Linked DNA regions of Homo sapiens: region 1 is linked to region 2. The links come from fine-mapping of genetic effects on gene expression. Tissue or cell type: hypothalamus. Region 2 holds a variant in brackets; the other region holds the start of a gene. All regions are shown on one strand. Distances are from middle to middle.

Region 1 (8,000 bases), 48 kb after region 2:
CTATCTGACGGTGAGCTCCGAGGCATGGAACTACATTTTATATCTATCTTCAGCACATAGTAGATTCACAGTAAGTGTTTGTTTTAAAAAAAAAGTTGGGAGTGGGGACGCAGGCACAGTGGCTCACACCTGTAATCCCAGCACTTTGGAAGGCAGTGGGGGAGTACTGCTTGATGCCAGAAGTTTGAGACCAGCCTGGGCAACACAGTGATACTCCATCTCTAAAAATAAAAATTAAAAAATTAGCCAGGCATGAGCATCTGTAATCCCAGCTACTTGGGAGGCTGAAGTGGGAGGACCACCTGAGCCCAGGAATCTGAGGTTGCAGTGAACAATGATTGCACCACTGCACTCCAACCTAGGTGAAAGAGTAAAACGCTGTCTCTTTAAAAAAAAAAAAAAAAAAAGGCTAGGCATGGTGGCTCACGCCTGTAATCCCAGCACTTTGGGAGGCCGAGGTGGGAGGAGCACCTGAGGTCGGGAGTTCGAGACCAGCCTGACCAACATGGAAAAACCCCGTCTCTACTAAAAATACAAAATTAGCCAGGTATCATGGTGCATGCCTGTAATCCCAGCTATTCAGGAGGCTGAGGCAGGAGAATTGCTTGAACCCGGGAGGTGGAAGTTGCGGTGAGCCGAGATTGCGCCGTTGCACTCCAGCCTGGGCAACAAGAGCAAAACTCCATCTCAAAAACAAAAAAAAAAAGAAAAAAAGAAAAAGAATAAAGTGGCAGTGATGGAAGAACCTCTCTTCCAAGCCTCAACCTCTCTCCTTAGCATCAAACACATTTCCAATTATCTATCAGCCACCTCTGTGCCCCACTATGGGTACCTCAGAAAACTCCAACTCTCCATAGCCAAAACCAAACTAATTATTCCCCATACACCAAAATCTCCTGATTTCTGATGATGTCAGCCACATCAACTTGGCTTCCCAAAGCAGAAATGTAATCTTCAATCACATGCAACTAATTAACAAGACCTATGGTACATTTTACCCAAACATCTGTTCCCTCCTCTCCCATTCTCACTGCCCATGTCTGTGGACAGAGCTAATCTCTAAAATGGTCTCCCAAACTTCCATACCCTCTTCCACACAACTACAGGGATCTTCCTAAAACACAGTGATCAAGCCACAGGCCTCCTTGTAAACCTCAGACGTCTCTCCCACTGCCTAAACGATAAAAGTCCCAACTCTTCACATGGCATTCATGGCCTTTCCGGATCTGGTCCTGATTATAGCACCCCCACCAGCCCCTCATTCTCTCCATGTATTTTCAACCTAACCAGACCAAACTCAACACGCGGCTTCCTTTGGCTGGAATCCTTTACCCCAAGGCCACCAAGGGCCCATTTTCAATCTCTCTTTTTTTTTTTTTTTTTTGACACAGAGTCTCACTCCCAAAGTGCTGGCATTACAAGCGTGAGCCACCGCGCCCGGCCCATTTTCAATCTTCAAAGCCCAACTCTCATGCAATTTTTGTTAAGCCTTCCTCAATTAATACCCAGTCTGTTATGTTTATTTTCTTTATAACGGCTTCCTTCTAAAATGGGTTTGAAGCAGCTTACAAATTACACACACACTGCAACTAGATTTTTTTTTTTTTTTTTTTGAGAGAGAGAGGAGAGACTAGCAGGGCAAAGATAAGACAAAGGTAAAAGAGATCAAAGTTAGGTGGTAAAGGAGCATTCAAAACCTGTGTCATAGCTGGGCACGGTGGCTCACGCCTATAATCCCAATACCTTGGGAGGCCAAGGTGGGCAGATCACCTGAGGTCAGGAGTTTGAGACCAGCCTGGCCAACATGGTGAAACCCCACCTCTACTAAAACTACAAAAATTAGCTGGGCGTGGTGGTAGGTGCCTGTAATCTCAGCTACTTGGGAGGCTGAGACAAGAGAATCGCTTGAACCCAAGAGGTGGAGACTGCAGTGAGCCGAGATCATGCCACTGCACTCCAGCCTGGGCAACAGAGCGAGACTGTCCCCCCCCAAAAAAAAAACAAAAACAAAAAACAAAAACCTGTGTCATAAGGTCTCATACTCACCTTGTTAGATATAGATTGGCCCTGAGTTCCCACTGGCTCAGAATGAGTTACTCTTCTATGAGCTCACTGACAGTTGTACATGACTGTACTGTAGCACTTCCCATATTTTTTGCAATTTGCTCTTTGCGTCCATCTCCCACACTGGACTGGGAAATTCCTAGGGGAATACATAATTTCTGACTCATCGCTGTATCCCCAGGATGTAACATATGACTCAGCACATGACTGGTGCTCAGCAGACATTTGTTGAATGAATGTTATCACGGACAGGGAATACGGTACTAGTGCTTGTTGAACTGCACGCCAGATATGTGAAAAAACATTATTTTATCCTCACAAAAAATGTACAAAGCTAAGAAATGGCAGAGCTAGGATTCAAACCCCAAACTGTCTATCTCTCCAAAGCAATTGCTCTTCCAAGTATGCATGATGTTCCCTACCTTCACCATCGCTACGTACCCACCTACTCTCTGCTTCAATGCCTGGTTAAAAACAAAATAAACCACCCTTCTCCCAGACGTCTTTCCTACTCACTCAGGACAGGAGTGCCTGAGTCCAGCCCTTGATCTTCCACAATACGTTAACAAATCATCACCAACTGGGAGAGGAAAGGGTGCCCCCTTGGTAGCTGAGAACTGAACAGCCTGTTGGGTATTCTGCAGATGGTGGGGTGAAGTCCTCAGCTCCTTCTTCTCCTGCCTTTCCCCACAGGTGCAGTGCCTGGGCCCTTCCTGCCTCTCTTCCTTCTTCAGGATCCAAAGCCTTTTTAGTTCTCCCCATTCTAAACCCAAAATAATCTCCTCAGGCCCATTACTTCTCTAACCCAGTGAATGGTGTTGAAAATGCACTCTTCCATTATATCAGTGAGACCTTTGTATTTTAAGCATCTCATCAACCATTAGGGCTGGCAAGCATCCCCATGCCCTGAAACACAAGAATTTTGTGAGAAGGGATAATGGCATTTTAGGAGGCCCAATCACCTGACCCTCCATCAATCTGAATATTTTTGGCGGCCTGGGAGTAAAAAGAGACAACCTATAACATCCCTCCCCACCCCCTGCCCCAGCAGCCTTTGTCCCCTAGCCCGGGTCTCTACGGGAGGGATGAAATCTGGCCCAGCAATGCTGCAGGGGAGGGATGGTGAACCCTGGTGCCTTCCTCTACATCTTCCTCCAGGACTTCAGAATCCTTCTTCTCCCCCTTGTCCATCCCATGTCTCTCTCTGGCCCTGGACTCCCACAGCCATCCTCAATCCTAACTCAGAAACTATGTTTTTTAATTAATATTCAGCAATTTCCTTGGAATACAATCATCTGCTCTGACATGCTGAAAGGCACACTCTCTGGCCCTGATATTATCCTACCTCCAGTTTTAAATGTATGACAAATATATCCCTGCATCCTATAACTACTCTCCTCGATACTGCAGGAACGTCTGTAATGTTAAATGTTATCACGCCTAAGAAATACCCAACCTCCTGAATCGGAATAGGGAGACTAAATTCTTCACTGTTTCGTACTCCTAAATAAAGATTATTCATGCAATTTACAGTAACTACCTCACAGCGCCAGGGTGATGATTCAATGATAATTCATGCCAACTGTTTAGTACCTAGGGCCTGGTACATACAGAGTGCTCAAAATTTAGCTGTTATCATTTACATACATTATCTTTCACAATAGTACCTGAGGGTAGATATTATACCACGCCCCCCCGACCCCCGCCTCTAATTTACAGAAACAGTAGCCCCGGCTCGGAGTAAAGGAGCTTTCCCAAGGTCAGTCAAGCAAGGATGTGATGCTCGGCCTTCATCCTGCAAGTGAGGGATCCCTCCCGTTACACTCTGGACGGGCGGGGCACTGGAGGTCTTAAAGGAGACAAGTATGGAAAAGCGCCGAGCACAGTGATCAGCACACAGTGGGGACGCCGGGATGGGAAGACCGCGGTACTGCAGGTCACCTGGATTCCCCCCGAGCAGCTCCCCGAGCCCGGGAGTCCAAAGCCCACCCCGCTCCCAGCCGTGGGCGCGCCACTGAGTACCCCAGAGGCCCGCGCCCCGGGGCTTTGTAGGCAGCAGGCCGGCCCTACTCACCGAGTCCCATCGCGGCGCGCAGAGGCGGCCGCCCGGCGCCCAGCCTGCAAGGCCGGGGTCGCAGCGGCTCGGCCCGAAAACCCTCCATGCCGGCCCCCGGCCCCCTCTACGCCCGGCCCGCGCCCCCCACCCCCGCCCCCGCCCGGCTGCGGCCCGCCCGGAAGGGGAGCCTCCTACCTGCAGCGGCGGCGCGGCAGCCGCGGCGACCGGGGGAGGGGCCGGCGAGGCGCGAGGGCGGGCGGCCTGGGCTCCTCTCGCAAGCAGGGCGGCCGGGAGGGCCGCGGGCTCCCGAACGCCGGGCGGCGGCGGCGGCGGCGGCGCGCCCCCGGCCGGCCAGGCCCCGCCGCGCGCGCCGCGGCCACAAAGCCCGGACGCCGCCGCCCCCTCGCGGACCGCCCGCCGCCTGCCGGTCCGTCGGCGCCGCCGAGGAGGGCGGGAGCGCGGCCCCGCGCCAGTCCCCACTTCCCCGAGCTGCGGCCGCCGGCCTCCAGGGGACTGGGGCGGGGCGCGGGGTGCCCCCCCGCCCACCTGCCCGTCCGCACCGACCCCGCTCCTGACATCCTCGGGCTGACGTCCTCGTGCTGATTTAGTTGCCTTTTTTCCCCACCTTTGCAGAGGAGCTCCTGAAGCGGCCCGAAAAACTGTTTTATTTCTATGAACAACAAAAGAATACATTTGTCACACGGGATTTGGCGGCCATGAACACGAGTTAGTTCAGTCCAGGTCCCCCGACTGAAATAGGCCCTTTTCTTTTAGGACTCCTTGATACTTGGGACAGCGAATCCCCCTATGCTGAGTTTATCAGAACTTCTGTTAATTTGTGGAACGTGCCTCCCCCAGGAGAGCGACTGTGCTCACTGGAGCCCAGGACCTGTCTCGGACACTGTGCTGACTCATTTGGAATTAATGCGTGTGTAAATGCATGCACAACAGCTCAAACTGTCGGGACAAGCCACCCTTTGCTCCTCCCGCAAACAGAGTGGCTGGATGTTTCTTTTGCCCTGGATCCATTGGGAAGACTCCAACCCCAGAGAAAGGCAGAGAAGGCTTTTTAACTTTTTTTTTTTTTGAGGTGAAATTCGCATAACATAAACCACTTAAAAGCGAACGATTTGGTGGCATTTATTACATTCATAATGTTGAGCAACCACTTCTATCTAGTTCTGAAACATCCATACTCCATTAAGCAGTAATTCCCCAGTCCCTCCTTCCTCCAGACCCTGGCAACGACTCAGCTATTTTCTATCTCTGTGAGTTTACTTTTTTCTGGGTATTTCATATAAATGCAACCATACAATATGCGGCCTTTTGTGTCGTTTCTTTGACTTAGCCTGTATTTAAGATTCATCCATGTTGAGGCGTGGATCAGTACTTCATTCCTTTTTATGGCTGATTAATATCCCATTGTATGTGTATATTATAATTTGTTTATTCATTCATCCCTTGATAGATATTTGGGTTACTTCCACCTTTTGGCTATTGTGAATAGTGCTGCTCTGAACATGCCTGTACACATATTTGAGTACCTGTTCCCAGTTCTTTTGGATACATACCTAGGAGTGGACTTTCTGGGTCATAGGGTAATTCTATGTTTAACTTTTCCAGGAACTGCCAAAAAGTTTTCCACAGCAGCTGAATGAATCATTTTACATTCCCATCACCAATGTTTGAGGGTTCCAAGTTTCCACAACCTTGTCAACACTTGCAATTTTCCGTTTTTGTGTTTTAATTCCTTGAACATTTTTGAGACTATTGCTTGCCCTCCCAACTCCCACTATCCATAGCCCTAAAGTAAAAACTGATCTAGGTTTTCACTATGTACAAAGAATCACGCAACCCTTTCTTTCTTCCCTCAAAAAACAATCCAGGGCAGAAGCACCAATAAAAATAAAGACCCTAAACTAAGAGCTATACTGGTCCTCATTCTTTTTCTTTTCTTTTTTTTTTTTTTTTTTTGAGACAGAGTCTGCTGGAGTGCAATGGTGCAATCTTGGCTCACTGCAACCTCCGCTTCCCGGGTTCAAGCAATTCTCCTGCCTCAGCCTCCCAAGTAGCTGGGACTATAGGCATGTGCCACCACTCCTGGATAATTTTTGTAATTTTAGTAGAGACAGGATTTCGCCATGTTGGCCAGGCTGGTCTCGAACTCCTGACCTCAAGTGATCTGCCCACCTCAGTCTCCCAAAGTGCTGGGATTACAGGCATCTCATTCATTATTTTAACAATAATTTGTCTGATGTCCAGGAGGCCTTGAAATTGTCCAGAGAGCCTGGAAACTAAAATTATACCAGGGGAGTTGCTACAATGTGCTAGCAAACAAGCTATGATACCACACCGAAAGCCAAGGCTGTACATCATTTACACTTGTTTTCCACTTAGTGCCATATTATAAGTCCATGAAGATTCCCTTCTTACATGCAGATACGGTCAAGGGAAAACTATTGGGGTGTGACATTGGAAGGTCAATTCAGATTGGAAATTTGATTGATAAAGTGATACAGTGTGGAAAAAGCACTAGATAAACGTGAACTAAGTTAAGCTCCTGAATCTCAGTTTTCTCATTTCATTTTTTTTTTTTTTTTTGAGACGGAGTCTCGCTTTGTCACCCAGGCTGGAGTGCAGTGGTGGCGCAATCTCGGCTCACTGCAAGCTCCACCTCCCGGGTTCACGCCATTCTCCTGCCTCAGCCTCCCGAGTAGCTGGGACTACAGGCGCCTGCCACCACGCCTGGCTAATTTTTTTTGTATTTTTAGTAGAGACGGGGTTTCACCATGTTAGCCAGTATGGTCTCGATCTCCTGACCTCGTGATCCGCCCGCCTCTGCCTCCCAAAGTGCTGGGATTACAGGCATGAGCCACCATGCCCGGCCAGTTTTCTCATTTCTAAGATGGGAATATGATGCCTACCTGGCTGGGTAGATAAAAGCTTCTAGTCTTAACTTCAGCAAATGATCAGTGTTATTTTATTGATTTAAATAATGAAGATTGTGGCTCATGCCTGTAATCCCAGCACTTTGGGAGGCTGGAGCATGTGGATCGCTTGAGCCCAGGAGTTCAAGACCAGCCTGGGCAACGTGGCAAAACCCCATCTCTACCAAAAATACAAAAATTAGCCAGTCTCATAACCTGGTCTCAAAATAAATAAACAGATAAAATTTTAAAAATAAAAAAATTAATGCTGTAATAAATAAATAAATAATGGTGATTGACATGAGCCACATGTAGGTGTACTGCTAAGGAGACATGGGAAACTCAAATTTAGTCATGTGTCTCTCCTCAAACAAAGAGAGCAGACTATCTTAAAAACTAATGGGGCAGGGTAACTACTCAGGCCTGCAATATGGTGGCTGCCTTCCCAGCTCTCTCCTTGATCCCTGACTTAGTTCTGCATGCTACCTTGGACAACTGACTTCTTTTTCTTTTTTTTTTTTTTTTTTTTACTTTGGATCACTTACATCAAATTAAATAGGTTTCTTGAAAACACAGAGAAAACACTCAATAAATGTGAGCTATTTTATCAATAATAAAGCTATTACAGTTTCTTTGTAGAAAGTGTTAACAGAAGGGCAGCGTCTACACAGAGTCTAGGAAAAGAAAACCATAAAGAACTCATCCATGTGACTTGTCCCTTTTTCAAATGCTGGAGGGTCCCTTCAGGAGATCCATTCCTGTGATGGAGATGAGTGATGCATTGCGCTCCACAGGTTGCTGAGAATAGCTATACATATTGTATCTTTTTTGCTAGGATCCAGGCTCACCAAGCAGTCTTGATATAGTAGTTGATTTCAACGACATCTTTTTTTTTTTTCCTTTTTTATTCCTTTTAGAGACAGGGTCTTGCTCTGTCACCCAGGCCAGAGTGC
Region 2 (8,264 bases):
AACTTGTCCATGAATGTTACAGCAGCATTATTCATAACAGCCAAAAAGTAAAAACAACTCAAATATCCATCAGTAGAGAAATGGATATGCAAAATGTGGTTTATCCATACAATGGAATATTATTTGGCCATAAAAAGGAATGAAGTTCTGATACACACTACAACATGGATGCACATTGAAAACATTATGCTAAGGGAAAGAAGCCAGACACAAAAGAACACACCTCATATGATCCCATTTGCATGCATATCTAGAATAGGCAAATCCATAGAGAGTAGATTAGTAGTAACCAGGGACTGGGGAGGCGAGGAATGTGGAATGACTGTTAATAGCTATGAGGTTTCTTTTGGGGGTGATGAAAATTTTCTGGAATTAGAGAGTGGTGACAGTCGTACAATTTTGTGAATATATATAAATCCACTTAACTGTACCCCTTTTAAAAAATCCTATCTTGTTCGTGCTCAATAAATGCTTATTGATGGGGACTGCTGTAGGGAAGCAAGCCCAGATGTGGTAAACAGAAACTTCCACTATATATATCTGTAAGAGGCTAACCACCTCTATAAGATTATAAGGCCCTTGAAAGCAGGGAAGCCTTCTCATATATTTCCCTTAACATCCAGTATATTAGATTACACTACGCAGTATTCAATCAAGGTTTGCTAAATTAATTATTATCCATCCACATTTTACACAACAGGGATCTAGAAGATAAAAGCCCTGCCCGAGATTCCCCATTAATTAGAAAAACTCACTTTTATTCCCAAGAATCCTGAATTGCCACAAATAAGGCACTTCTCATAATCTGACATTTATATCGTCCATTAATACCATTCCTACCACCATATAATAATCCAGAGGACCCACTTCTAGTTAAAACCCATTTCAAATTCTCTACCTTATATCTATCACGAAATGCCACTTACTGGTCTCTCAGTATGTTCTTCTACCTCTTTAACCATATTCCCTAAGCTAGAAATGCCCCACATGGTTAGTCTCATTTGTTCTTCTCAAATATCCCAGAGCCAAAAAGGACCATCATCATCTTCATTTCACAAATGAAAAACAAAGTCAGTCAGTCTAAGGTTACCTGGTCTCCTAAATTCAAGTTTATCTTTCTTCACATATGTCATGTATTTCCAAGCTTTTTTTCTCTTTGGATAACTGGGAACTTTCTGTTAAGTTAGCTTTAAAAAAAAATAAGCATAAATAAAAAAGATATAAAATCGAAGTTTTTCTTTTAATCTCAATAAGTCTAAAGTCCAGAATAAGTGGAGAACTGGGGCAAGAGGACAACAAAAGAAGTCTTGTTCCAGCCTGGGCATCATGGCGAAGCCCTGTCTCTACTAAAAACACAAAAAATTAGCCGAGTGTGGTGGCACGCACCTGTAGTCTGAACTACTGAGGAGGCTGAGAATCACCTGAGCCCAAGAAGCTGAGGCTGCAGTAAGCTGAGATTGCGTCACTACACGCCAGCCTGGGCGACAGGAATGAGATCCTGTCTCAAACAAACAAACAAACAAACAAAAAAGTCTTGTTGAGAACAAGAAGAGATAAACCAAAGGCCCATTGCTTAGGGAAGATGCAATATCAAGAGACAACAGGGCCAATTCCCTATGCTTCATCTTCATCAAGAAGCATGATCTTCAAGCTAGGGAGGTCAGAAATCTGATAAAAGGAAACCAGCTTCTAAGGTAAGTGGCATGGGTAGGGGACAGTAACAGAATACAGAGCTAGTTCAAAAGAATATGCTTTCTGATCCAAATAACTCACACTCCATGATGCTGAAAAAACTTTTACATCTGCCTTAAAAACTACCACAAATTATCTAAGCTACCTTGACAAGGTGCCAGAAGACCAGAAATCAAATAAATAGAAATAAACACATGCTCAAATTTCAAAAAAGGAGAAATGCAGGCCGGGCGCAGTGGCTCATGCCTGTAATCCTAGCACTTTGGAAGGCCGAGGTAGGCGGATTGCCTGAGCTCAGGAGTTCGAGACCAGAATGGGCAACACAGTGAAACCCCATATCTACTAAAATACAAACAATTAGCCGGGCGTGGTGGTGTGCGCCTGTAGTCCCAGCTACTCGGGAGGCTTGAGGCAGGAGAACTGGTTGAACCTGGAAGGCAGAGGTTACAGTGAGCCGAGATCATGCCACTGCACTCCAGCCTGGGCGACAGAGCAAGACTCCATCTCAAAAAAAAAAAAAAAAAAAAAAAGGCGGAATGCAGATCCAGAAAAACATCTGTGGGTAAACCTGCTATGTAACTGCTGAAAAATTCTAAAATGGATAAATAAGTTTTCGAATACAGTAAAATGAGAAAGCCACCATCAGCTCTTTATTAAGGCAGGCTATACAACATGTGCTTTTTATTTAACAGGATTACTAAAATGGAAAAAGGGAGGATGACAGGATGATATATACACATAACAATCTAACAAGACAATCTGAAAGAATCTTTTAAATAATAGGCTGGTGAACAAAATGGGAAAATGTTGAACAGCAGAAGCTCGAAAATCTGTTAAATTCAACTAACAGGATGCATAGCTAGTTGAACATCTGGTTGACTAACGTAACAACATCAACCAAGTTGGTAGAAAGTCTCCAGTAATATGTCGCAGGGTTCCATCCTTTTTCACAATCTAGACAACTTCTATTAATTTAATGAAGCCATAGAACTGCTCTTCATATTTGCAAGTGAAAAAAACCTGTGAGTGACCCAACACGCACAGCCTGACCGAATCAGCTCCAGAAAGCTCACAGTAGGCTGAAATGATGGTCCAAAACCAAAAATGAATATCTACAGGGAATCGAGGGCTGTATTTAGTTTTAAAACTGAAATAGGCCGGGCGCGGTGGCTCACGCCTGTAATCCCAGCACTTTGGGAGGCCGAGGCTGGCAGATCACGAGGTCAGGAGATCGAGACCATCCTGGCTAACACGATGAAACCCCATCTCTACTAAAAATACAAAAAATTAGCCGGGCATGGTGGCGGGTGCCTGTAGTCCCAGCTACTGGGGAGGCTGAGGCAGGAGAATGGCGCGAACCCGGGAGGCGGAGCTTGCTGTGAGCAGAGATCACCCCACTGCACTCCAGCCTGGGTGACAGAGTGAGACTCCGTCTCAAAAAAAAAAAAAAACGAAATAGGCCAGGCACATTGGCTCACACCTGTAATCTCAACACTTTGGGAGGCCGAGGCAGGCGGATCACCTGAGGTCAGGAGTTCAAGATCAGCCTGGCCAACATTGTGAAACCCCATCCCTACTAAAAATACAAATTAGCCCGGCATGGTGGTGGGCGCCTGTAGTCCCAGCTACTCCGGAGGCTGAGGCAGGAGAATCACCTGAACCCAGGAGCCAGAGGTTGCAGTCAGCCAGGATTGCGCCACTGCACTCTAGCCTGGGTGACAAAGTGAGACTCCATCTCAAAAAAAAAAACATGACAGAGTAAACTTCAGTTTGTGGGGGGATACCTAGATAATAAAAGCTACTAAACAAACTGTGCACAATTTCGAGCTGCATTAACAGATGTGTGTGTCCAGACTGTATTAA[C/T]ATGGTTCTCAAACTTACCAACTAAAAAAATTTTTTTTCCATATGAATCGTTCCCAAATCTTCATCCTAAAAAGTTACAATAAGAATCTACAAGTATCACTTAGTTAAAACTCTAGCTTTAGACCCAGTTATTCAAGTATATCTTACTGCTAGAAAACATTTTATTTGATCAGCTTAATTTATTGACATTTATATCAGTGATGAATACGCTTGAAAGAAGACTCAGATATTACTAAATCCAAGTCTCTTTTTTAAAAGGAATGGAAACTAAGAGAAATTAAGTAACTTGCCCCAAATTACACAGCTGCTTAACAAGGACCATGACCCCTAGATCAGTCCCCTTTTTCCCACACTGCATGTCACCCACCCCTCCTCTTCAATGCATAGTACCCCAGGGTGACTAACTGAGCCCCAGGCTTCACACGCACACACACCACACAAAAACACAGGTTCACTTCTCCGGCCCTGGGACTTTCCTGCCCATACCCGAGGTCACTCCAAGCCCCTACATTCCATCTTAGAACCCAAAGAACACACACACACACACACACACACACACACACACACACACAGTCGCTCTGCATCACCAACCCACATCCTCAAGGGTATCCATCCCTCTATTTCTTTTATTTCCTTTCTTAAAACTTGAACTATGCAAGTTAGAAAGTACACACAAAAACATCCCATCAAGACACACTATATTTTGCTAAGAACGAATTAGCTTAGCAAGAACAAATACCCGCGACACATTAGCTGGAAAAATATTGACATGGTGCGATCACTTACAAGTTTGATAATTAATATTTGTTACATAAAAAGGCACTCTAATATACAACTGGTTTTTATTCTTAAAGTATGATTATGTAATAAAGCATTACCCCATATCCCGTTCAACATCAGAAAAATAACAGAAAAGTTTTTTCACGGATGGAAATGCTTTTAATGGACATGCCATTGTTTACTGTGCTCAAAACTGCCATTCCCCTCATAAAACATTACCATATGAAAATTATTAAAAGATTTAAGGCCTTCAAACCTAAATAGCGGGCCAAAGGCTTGCTTCATTTAGGGTAGCATAAGCATCTGCGCTGAGACTCTCTTGCTCCTTCCTCACTCTTCCAGAAATAATGCCCCTTCAAGAGCCCAAAAGTATAAAGGTTGTCCGGCAGATTCCCAGTGGCCTTATGTTCCTCCCTCCTCCCCCTACTCCGCCTTGGTTTAAAGAAGACAAGAGAAGGCTCCAGAATTGATAAAAGGGCAAGTTAGCAAGGATGTGGCTTATGATCACTAGCATCTGCTAGGCCAGCTCCAAGAAGACCCTCCACTCAAAAAATGAGACCTGAATGCCTGTCTTTGCCCCAGGGCCATAATCCTTGTGCGCCTCTGGGACCCCTTTAGAAATGAAGAGGAACTTTACTGCTGGGACCCTCCTCCCCAGTGTTATCCACTAAAGCCTCAGCAAGCTCTTTGTTTCCAACAGCTGTGGGGGGGCAAGCGGCCTTGGAGAGAGGGGAGAGGTCACTCCCTTGCTCCCCGCTGCTGCCAGAATCCAGGCCCTCCCGCAAAACACACACACACAGGCACGACATCTTCCCTGGGACCCAATTCTCTCTTTCCACACTTTAATAACCCAGGGTTACACCTTGCTACACAAGGGCATTCCCTGAGACCTAATTTCCTCTTTCTACATCCAAACCCTACACAGGATGATGACTCCCAAGCCTCCTCCCCTTTGAAAAGACATAAATGGGGTTCGCTATAGGGCACCCATCCCTCCTCTTCAATGCATACCCCAGGGTGACTAACTGAGCCCCAGGCTTCACACACAACACACAAAAACACAGGGTCACTTCCTGGGCCCTGGGACTTTCCCCGCTCATATCCACAGACCCGAGGTCACTCTAAGCCCCCAGATCCCATCTCAGAACCCAAAGAACACACACGCGCGCGCGCGCGCACACACACAGTCACTCTGCATCGCCAAACCGCGTCCTCAAGACAACCCGTTCCCTTTATCCACACGACCCCCACCCCCGAGACCCCCAGTGCCTTAAGGAAGAATCTCCCCAGCACATCAGCACATGGTCACTCCCCTGCCCTCACCCCGCCCAGCCCCCTCGCCGTCTCCCACCCACCGCACTCTGCACACACACACACAGATCCCTGCCTGGGGCCGCCCTCCCTCCCCTCAGCCTTCACAACACAAACACACGCTCCCGCGAGCACACCCACGACCACACCGGGAGCCCCGGCCGGCCGCTCAGCCTCGCCGGCCCCGGCCCCGGCCCCACCGCCTCCCCACACGCCGGGCCGCCCTCGCCCAGCCACTCGACACACTCGGACGCACCCACGGCCACTCCCATCCCCAGCGCCGGTCCCAAAGCCACACCGCACGCTCGCGCCCTGCCCTCCGCCCTCGCTCACCCTCGGGCCCACCCCTGGGACCCCCACGACGGGGTCTTTCCCAGCCCGGCCGACCGCAGGGACCACGAGGGAGGCGGCAACGGAGGGGTGGGAAGACCTAGGGCCGGCTCCGACCGGTCCTACCTGAGCAGTTGATGCTCTTGCCTTTGCCGCCGGGACAGTCCCCGCCGCTGCCGCCGCCACCACCCGGGGGCTGGTTGGACGCGCGGCTCCCGGGCAGAGAGAAGGCGAAGAGCAGAAGCACCGACGTGTAGCAGCAGAAGGCGAGCGGAGGCGCGGCAGGCAGCCGGAGCGGCGCCTCAGCGGCTGCGGCGCCCATGACTGGTGCCCCTGGACGGCGGGAAGCGCAGGGAGCCGCAGGCCGGGGGCATCCAGCCGCGCGCCCAGAGCCCCGCCGCTGCCTCGGTGCCTCCTAGCAGCCGCGCCGCTGAGCCGGGGAGCAGCCCGTCAGCATCCCCGCCCCACCCGCAGCGTCCGCCAGGCCCGGGCCCGCGGCGCTCGGGACGGAGTCGGCGGGTCCGGGCGCGTGCGAGGGTCGCGGGCGCGCAAGGGTGCGCGCGAGGGTGCGAGCCGGCGTGGGGGACACCGCGGCGAGGGGAGCGGGCGGGCGCGCGCGCGGCGGGCGGGGGTCGCGGGCCGGAGGCAGGCCCAGCCTCTTGCTCGCCTCCTCGCCTTCCCTTTGTGTCCGTGGCCGTTGCCACCGCGTCACAAAGACCCCGGCCCGCCCGGTGAGGGGCGCGTGACGGAGCCGCCGGCGGGAGGGGTGGCTGCGACCCCGCCCCGCGCACACCCCCAGCTCCCGCGCCGACAGCTCCGCCCCCGGCCGCGGCCGGCGCCGCCTCCAGGGGAGCTATTGTTCCTGCGACAGGGCAGGGGCGCGGGGGCCGGGGTTGGGGCCACCCCTCGGCGGTAGGCTGCACCGTAGCAGACTTGTTTGCCGCCCTTTGTGAGCTGTTTTTGAAGCGTTTCCTTCGCCCAGCAGCAGGGCTGGGAATGAGGGCAGGTGGTCTGTCATATATCTATAATAGTTTTTAGGTGGAAGAAACTGAGTCACGGAAGAGGTAAAGGTGACTTGTCCAAGGTTGCATACCAAGAAATGGGCAGGACCAGGATGGGAGCCCAAGTTCTGACTCTAGCCATGCAGTTCTCAGAGATGTTGGGTGAATGGTTAGATTTCTAGGTTCCTCATCCCCACCTCATTCCCGTAGACTCACATACAAGTGAGTGAAAATAGTTTTACAAAAGTCTGTGTTGCCCTCTCCCCCTAACAAAAGCTGAGATTCAGAGAGGATTTTCTAATATACAAGGCCTGGTGAAAGCTCTTTATGTGCATTCTCTTCAATTATTTTTTTACAGGCCTCGGAGGGAGTTTTCGTTCTTATCTCCATTCTACAGATGAGGAAGTAGGGACCCAGAGAGGCAAGGTGATCTGACTCCCAGTCCAGTGCTCTTCCTACCACATCCTGCTAGGTGATAACTAGACATAGGTACTAAGATCATGGACTGAATTGTGTGAAAGTCCTCTGCCTTTTTCATTCTATTATATTGCATCCCACCCCAGAAGGAATTTTAAGTCTCATTGAAAAACTGATCAATTTGATTCATAAAATTAAGAAATGTGTGAAAAGCCACCGCAAGCAAAGCCACATTAGGAAAAATGTCTTCAGTGCAAATATGAGACAATATACTTAATATAAAGTTATATGTCAAGAAGAAAAAGTTAACATAATAGAAAAATAGGAAGCTTGACTCTTATTCACAAAAAGTACAGACAATAAATACATGAAAACAGATTTGAACCCACTAGTAATAAAAGATTAAAACCACAAAACTCTGGCCAGGGGCAGTGGCTCACACCTGTAATCCCAGCACTTTTAGAGGCCGAGGTGGGCGGATCACCTGAGGGCAGGAGTTCGAAACCAACCTGGCTAACATGGTGAAACCCCGTTTCTACTAAAAATAGAAAAAATTAGCCAGGCATGGTGGCGCGCACCTGTAACGCCTATAATCCCAGCTACTTAGGAGGCTGAGGCAGGAGAATCGCTTGAACCCGGGAGGTAGAGGTTGCAGTGAGCAGAGATTGCACTATTTCACTCCAGCTTGGGCAACAAGAGCGAAACTCCATCACACACACACACGCACACACAATTATTTTCCCTTTGGATGATTAACAAGAGTTAAAAGAATTGGCAGACTGAGCACTACTAATTTATACATTTTAGGAGGGCAATTTGACTATGTATCAAAAAACCTTTAAAATATGTTTACTCTTTAGCAATTCCATT

The links. PIP is the estimated chance that this variant, and not a neighbour inherited with it, causes the effect.
Region 1: MSANTD3 starts here. The variant in region 2 is fine-mapped to the expression of MSANTD3 in hypothalamus (GTEx, PIP above 0.99).

Annotation. Positions count from the first base shown.
Region 1 is chr9:100,423,709-100,431,708 of GRCh38, reverse strand. It overlaps MSANTD3 (Myb/SANT DNA binding domain containing 3), which reads right to left and starts at 4,566. Exons shown (of 3, transcript NM_080655.3): 1 at 4,316-4,566. RefSeq lists silencers at 4,070-4,189, 4,230-4,459, 4,500-4,729.
Region 2 is chr9:100,471,579-100,479,842 of GRCh38, reverse strand. All of the region lies in intron 1 of MSANTD3-TMEFF1 (MSANTD3-TMEFF1 readthrough), which reads right to left. It overlaps TMEFF1 (transmembrane protein with EGF like and two follistatin like domains 1), which reads right to left and starts at 6,694. Exons shown (of 10, transcript NM_003692.5): 1 at 6,103-6,694. The coding sequence starts at 6,298. It overlaps LOC124902237 (a long non-coding RNA gene), which reads left to right and starts at 6,953. Exons shown (of 3, transcript XR_007061702.1): 1 at 6,953-7,040; 2 at 7,336-7,466. RefSeq lists silencers at 5,909-6,068, 6,379-6,438, 6,719-6,878. The variant C/T (reference allele first, on the strand shown) is at 3,556.